2 linked regions of the Homo sapiens genome follow. The protein of the gene in region 2 purifies or fractionates together with the protein of the main gene of each other region. This does not show direct contact. Each region holds a gene or a part of one and is shown on either strand. Other genes may lie near its edges.

Region 1 (3,821 bases), on a different chromosome or scaffold from region 2:
CACATACATTGAATATGTTAATGGTAAACTTTCCCACCAGATGGTGCTCATGCTTTTTCTTTGTTTTTATTTTCTATTTTGAAAAAAATCCAACAATTTATAGTCTGAGAAAACAAACAGAGCCATGATGGACACTTTGCAATTTGTGTTGTTGATTTTATGGATAAAAGACAGTTTTATTTCATGTCTCCAACAGATAACAATTTGATTTTCTCAGATTTCTGGATTTTGTGACATGGGTGCTAAGTAGGAATCATGAGAGGAGAGGCATGGTCAGCATTAGCCCAGAAGTCACAGATCCCCTGGAACCCTCTCCAACAATTCCCTGCACATGAAGATATGATTTGTGTGTGATTTGTTTAAGAATATATGCAAGATATTGCCAGCCAATAAAATCATTTAGATTTTTTTAATGATCAAAGTAATATAATCATGCTGCAAAACGAGTTAAAATGTGGGGAAAAGAAAATAACCACTCATGATTACGTCATCTCCACATGACTGCTGTTGGCATTTTGATGTTATGTTACCTACCAGAGGCTTTTTTTCTATGTATCTTTTTTCCTTTCACAGTTATAATTAGAATATATTTATCATTTTGTGCCCAATTTTGGAAAAATATGTTTTTCACATTGCCATCTCATTCTCTGAATCATTTTTATTTTATTTATTTATTTTTTGAGACAGAGTCTTGCTCTGTCACCCAGGCTGGAGTGCAGTGGTGAGATCTCGGCTCAATGCAACCTCTGCCTCCCAGGTTCAAGTGATTCTCCTGCCTCAGTCTCTCAAGTAGCTGGAATTCCAGGCATGCACCACCATGCCCGGCTAATTTTGTGTTTTCAGTAGAAACAGGGTTTCACCATATTGGTCAGGCTGGTCTCAAACTCCTGACCTCAAGTGACCCACCCACCTCGGCCTCCTAAAGCGTTGGGAATCCAGGCATGAGCCACCACACCTGGCCTCTGAATCATTTTTGAAAGCTGCATGATGTTTCATCCAGGCAAGGGTGCAGAGCATGTGCTGTGGCTGTGAAGTTCCAGTGTGGCTTCCAGGGCTTGCCCAGGGTTGTCAGCCCCTTCCCCACCACTCCTCACTCTGAGGATTATCTGTAGGGACTCTTTAACCCTGGGTTGACTTTGGGTTTCCAGCAAACCCAATCCATTGTTATGGCGGCTTCATCCACTGTGTCCTTTCCTGCCTATACCCTCTCTCTACCTCCACTCCCACCTCAGCCTTCTCCAAGAAAAACAATATACGCATCATTTAGTCTTTTGGATTATCCGTCTTTTATTTCATTCCTCTGTGAATGAGAGAATCTTTGGGACTGGTTTTCTACGGTATCAGCTCCTCAGGCTCTGTCTTGGGATTAGGTAAGGCAAGGAAGAAGAGAGGAGAGACAATCACACACGACAGCAAGGCGTGCTGTATACCCCTTGGCAGTTGCTTGGGAAGAGGGAATCTGGAGAAGTGTCTTAGTTTCCTATTGTTTCTAGAACACATTGCCACACGCACTGTGGCCTAAAACGCAATTTTTATACTTTTTTTTTTTTTTTTTTTGAGACTGAGTCTCCCTCTGTCGCCCAGGCGGAGTGCAGTGGTGCAATCTTGGCTCACTGCAACCTCCGCCTCTTGGGCTCAAGCAATTCTCCTGCTTCAGCCTCCTGAGTAGCTGGGATTATAGACACGCTCCACCATGCCCAGCTAATTTTTGTATTTTTAGTAGAGACGGGGTTTCGCCATGTTGCCCAGGCTGGTCTCGAACTCCTGGGCTCAAGTGGTCCACCCACCTCAGCCTCCCAAAGTGCTGGAATTACAGGCGGGAGCCACCACGCCTGGCCCGGTTTTAAAAATCTTATAGTTCTGGAGGTCAAGAGTCCTAAAATGAGTCTCACTCGGCTAAAGTCAAGGTGTTAGCAGGGCTGGTTTCTTTGGGAGGCTCTAAGGGAGAATCATTTTGTTGCCTTTTTCAGCTTCTAGAGGCCACCTACATGCTTTGGCTGGTGACCTTGAACCACTCTGACCTCACTTCCATTCCATTGTTACATCTCCTAGTACTAACTCTGATCTTCCTGCCTCCCTCTTATAAAGATCCTGGTGATTATATTGGGCCCACACAGAAATCTAGGCTTACCCCCTCATCTCAAAATCCTTAACTTAATCGTGTCTGCAAAATCCCTTTTGCCATGTAAGGTCCCACGTTCACAGGTTCCAGAGATTAGGCCATGGATTTTTTTTTTTTTTTTTATACAGAGTCTCGCTGTGTCGCCCAGGCTGGAGTGCAGTGGTGCGATCTCGGCTCACTGCAAGCTCTGCCCCCGGGTTCATGCCATTCTCCTGCCTCAGCCTCCTGAGCAGCTGGGACTACAGGTGCCCGCCACCACGCCTGGCTCATTTTTTGTATTTTCAGTAGAGACAGGGTTTTACCGTGTTAGCCAGGATGGTCTTGATCTCCTAACCTCGTGGTCCGCCCGCCTCAGCCTCCCAAAGTGCTGGGATTACAGGCATGAGCCACTGTGCCTGGCCAGGCCATGGACATCTTTGGAGGCCATTATTCAACCAACCCCAAGAATTCAGAAATGCACCATCTTTGGTTCCAATACCGATTGGCCTGGCACCCAGGACCCTCCCACATTGCCATCTTTTCATCTCCTCAGGACAAGAAGGACTTTATAGACATGCGGGTGAAGCGGCTTCTGAAGGCGGGTGTCATCTCTGCCCTGGCTTGCATGGTGAAAGCAGATAGTGCCATCCTCACTGACCAGACCAAGGAGCTGCTGGCCAGGTGGGGCTGCAGTGGGCCAAGGCTTGGAACTAGGGCTGGGGGCCGAGGGTCCTGGAGTGCAGCACACTGGGCAGGGAGATAGAAATGGTGGGGGCCTAAATGAGGAGATAAACTATTGGGAAAGCCTGGAGAAAGGTCTGAGGGGATCAGCTTTGAAAAGTGACATGGGACCAGGGGTGGTGGCTCATGCCTGTAATCCCAGGGCTTTGGGAGGCCCAGGTGGGAGGATTGCTTGAGCCCAGGAATTCAAGACTAGCTTGGGAAACATATTGAGACCCCATCTGTACAAAAAAATTTTAAATTAGCCTGGCACGGTGGTGTGCACCTGTACTGCCAGCTACTTGGGAGGCTGAGGCAGGAGGATCACTTAAGCCCAGGAATTCAGGGCTGCAGTGAATGATGATGGTGCTACTGCACTCCAGCCTGGGTAACAGAGCAAGATCCTGTCTCTATACAAAAGAGAAATAAAGAAAGAGAGAAAGAGAGAGAGAGAGAGAAAGGAAGGGATGGCGGAAGGAAAAAAGGAAGGAGGGAAGGGAAAAGAAGAAGGGAGGAAGGAGAAAGAAAGAAAAAGAAAGAAAGAAAAAGAAAGAGAAAGAAAGAGGAAGAAAGGAGGGAGGGAAGGAAGGAGGGAAGAAAGAAAGGAGGGAAGGAAGGAGAGAGAGGAAAGAAGGAAAGAAAGAAAGGAAAGAAGAAAGAAAGAAAGAAAGAAAGAAAGAGAAAGAAAGAAAAAAGAAAAGAAAGAAAGGGAAAGGAAAGGAAGGAAGGAAGGAGAAGGAAAGAAAGAGGGAAAGAAGGAAAGGAAGGAAGAGAAGTGGTATGTTGGGCAGGTCATCACAGGTGGAAGTTTGTATCAGGAGAAAGGAGGCCACTGTTCCTTCTTGTTACCTTGTTCTCAGAGATTAAAGGCACAGTCTGTGTGCAGCCTGGCCAGGGAGGCAGGCAAGATCACAGCTACAGTCCGATGCAATGGATGCCATGATGTGGGAAGCATAAAGGGCTGATTGGAGCACAAGCAGTGTTCCCCAACCAGCCAGAC
Region 2 (2,933 bases):
ATAAAAACAACAGATCCACTCAAAAATGTTCTAACAATCAATTAAGTATTCAACTGAGAAGTGACATATGTGAATTTTAATCTCATCTTCCAGAAATAGCCACATGATCTTACCTAAACCTAAGGGCATGGAGGTACAAAGCCATTCTGTGCACGGAAGACAAAGAACTTAAAATAACTGCTGAACAAGATGAATGACAACTTAAAACATAAAAGCTTTTGTGAACAAAATTGTACGTATTTGAATTTTAGAAAATAAAGTTTTTAGACTGGGCGCGGTGTTTCATGCGTGTAATCCCAGCACTTTGGGAGGCCGAGCCTGGCCAGCATGGTGAAACCCTGTCTCTACTAAAATACAAAAAATGAGTCGGGCATGGTGGTGTGCGCTTGTGTTCCCAGCTACTCGGGAGGCTGAGGCAGGAGAATTGCTTGAACCCGGGAGGCAAAGGTTGCAGTGAGCCGAGATCACACCACTGCACTCCAGCCTAAGACAGAGAGAAACTCCATCTCAAAATATAATAATAAAATAAAAATAAATAAAGTTTTGAAAACTGCAATGTTCTCCATTGATGCACTATATTTCTCAGCTAAAGAAAAAAGTCTAGGAAGGGCTTTAGAAACCAAAAGAATACTGATTTTTAAGAAAAGTATATCTTCATTGACAGCTCTTTGATTAATGCTTCTTTTACATTTTTATTTCTAAGGCTATAAATTATAAGGTTCAGCATAGGGATTACTGTGGTATAAAATACAGCTACCATTTTACCCTGTTCAACAGATTCCTTTGAGGGGGGTCTGAGATACATGAAGAAAAGGGTTGCATAGAATATAGTGACAGCTGTCAGATGGGAGCCACAGGTAGAAAAAGCTTTTTGCCTGCCCTCTGTAGAGCGAATCTTTAAAATAGCAGGGAAAATGTAAAGGTAGGAAATACATATGATGAAGAGAGAAAAAGAAAGGTTCCAGCCAGCCACAATAAACATTGACAACTCCTTGTTGTAGGTGTCAGAACAAGCCAGCTTAATCAGTGGTGGGTCCGCACAGTAGAAGTGATTAATTTCATTGGGGCCACAGAAGGCTAGGTTGTAGGTCCACATGGTCTCCATCAGGCCAGTGAGCGCTCCATACACATAAGGCACCGTGATGAGGAAGGAGCACACACTCTTGGACATTCTGCTGCCATAAAGCAGAGGGTTGCAGATGGCCATGTACCGGTCAAAGGCCATCACAGCCAGGATGTAGATCTCAACATGGACCAAGGCGATAAAAAGGTAACACTGCACAAGACAGGCAGGATAGGAAATGCTTTTCTTCTCTGAAAGGAAAATCTCCAGCATCTTTGGAGTCACATTGGAAGAGAAGCACAGATCCACGAAGGATAAGTGGCTCAGGAAAAAGTACATGGGCATGTGGAGCCAGGCGTTGGCCTGGATGAGGACAATCATGCCAAGGTTCCCTGCCACCGTGACCATGTAAATGGCCAGAAACAGCGTGAAGAGGAGAATTTGTAATTCCCGGCGACTGGTCAGTCCCAGGAGAATGAACTCAGTCACCAACGTGCAGTTTCTTCTCATAATTTCCTTCGGTGGAAGAAAGGAACTTTACATATATATTGGATTACAATACAATAGCAACATGATTATTACTATTACAGTAATGATCTTTTACCAAAAACGTCCCCTCTTTTTGGCAGTTTTCCTCATTCTATTTCTACTGAACTTTGTTTCAGGTAAACTAAATTAGGGATATTCAAAGCAGCTCTCTACCTTTTATGATACTGCCCTTTATTTTTCTTGTTTTCTTTCCATTTTCTTTCTTTTCACTCCCTTCAAATTCAGCTTCTGTTTTTCTATTCTTCTTCTCTCGTTTCTCCTCCCCTTATTCTGCCTCTCCTTTTATTTGAGAAATGTACTTTATAGGTGGACTTGCCCCAAAACATAACATTCAGAACTAAGCAATTTCTTTTTTCCCGATTATAATACTGGGCAGAGAATGCGCGTAAAGAGAGAAAAGGACAAGTATCAAAAAGCAATATTTGCCCGAGGATCTTGTTCTTTGTGAATAGTTTTCACCAATCCGATCCCTTCCTGGAGAAGCCTGAGCAAACAGGTTGGGCTCATTTGTTGCTTTCTTATTCCTCCAGGCTCAGTGCAATAGGGATTCTCCAGGCAGGGCATGATTTTTTTCCCCTTATTTTGAAAAGTGTCTGCATATTTGCCTTTTGAGGGTTGCACAGCTATTAAATTCTCTAGCCAGTAACACTCTCTTTGAATTTTTTGGAGGAAATTTTCCATTATGTGGAGTTAAGACTCATGGAAATTCTCTCCTCTTGATCTTCCACTTCTAGTTTCCACTGAGAGACCAGATTCTCTGTTTAGAAAGGAGTAGTCAGGGCAGGTGTGGTGGCAGGCGCCTGTAGTCCCAGCTACTCAGGAGGCTGAGGCAGGAGAATGGCGTGAACCCGGGAGGCGGAGCTTGCAGTGAGCCAAGACGGTGCCACTGCACTCCAGCCTGGACGACAGAGCCAGATGCTGTCTCAAAAAAAAAAAAAAAAAAAAAAAAAAAAAAAAAAAACCATAAAGGAGTAGGCAGGGGTCAGATGTTAGTCCCTGCTTGTCTTAAGTAAGTTCATGACTCAAGGTTGCAAAATATTTTTTCATCTAATTGATTACAGTGAAGTTTGAAGATCAGGCTGATGTTGCAAAGAAACACTGATTCTGTGTGGTTTGATCTGCTCAGCCTCCACACCTGCCTAGGCTGCTATCTGTTCTCTGAGCCTGGTCTTTTAACCGCACATTGATTTAGGAGCCCTAACATCCTTTCAGAATGTTCCGGTTTTGCTTAGCATAACCAGAGCTGTGTTCTGTTACTTACAACAACAACAAAAACTGTTAACACTGATATTAATGAAATGTACCTTCTATTTTTCTATAT

What was found.
Region 1: the proteins of OR5M8 (region 2) and UNC45B purify together in Homo sapiens (affinity purification with mass spectrometry; one large-scale study listed by BioGRID and IntAct). This does not show direct contact.

Annotation. Positions count from the first base shown.
Region 1 is NC_000017.11:35,171,588-35,175,408, forward strand, and holds part of UNC45B (protein unc-45 homolog B), read left to right. Parts: intron 1-2,654; coding exon 2,655-2,782; intron 2,783-3,821. UniProt on the Homo sapiens protein: Acts as a co-chaperone for HSP90 and is required for proper folding of the myosin motor domain. Plays a role in sarcomere formation during muscle cell development. Is necessary for normal early lens development.
Region 2 is NC_000011.10:56,489,798-56,492,730, forward strand, and holds OR5M8 (olfactory receptor 5M8), read right to left. Parts: upstream 1,574-2,933; coding exon 638-1,573; downstream 1-637. UniProt on the Homo sapiens protein: Odorant receptor.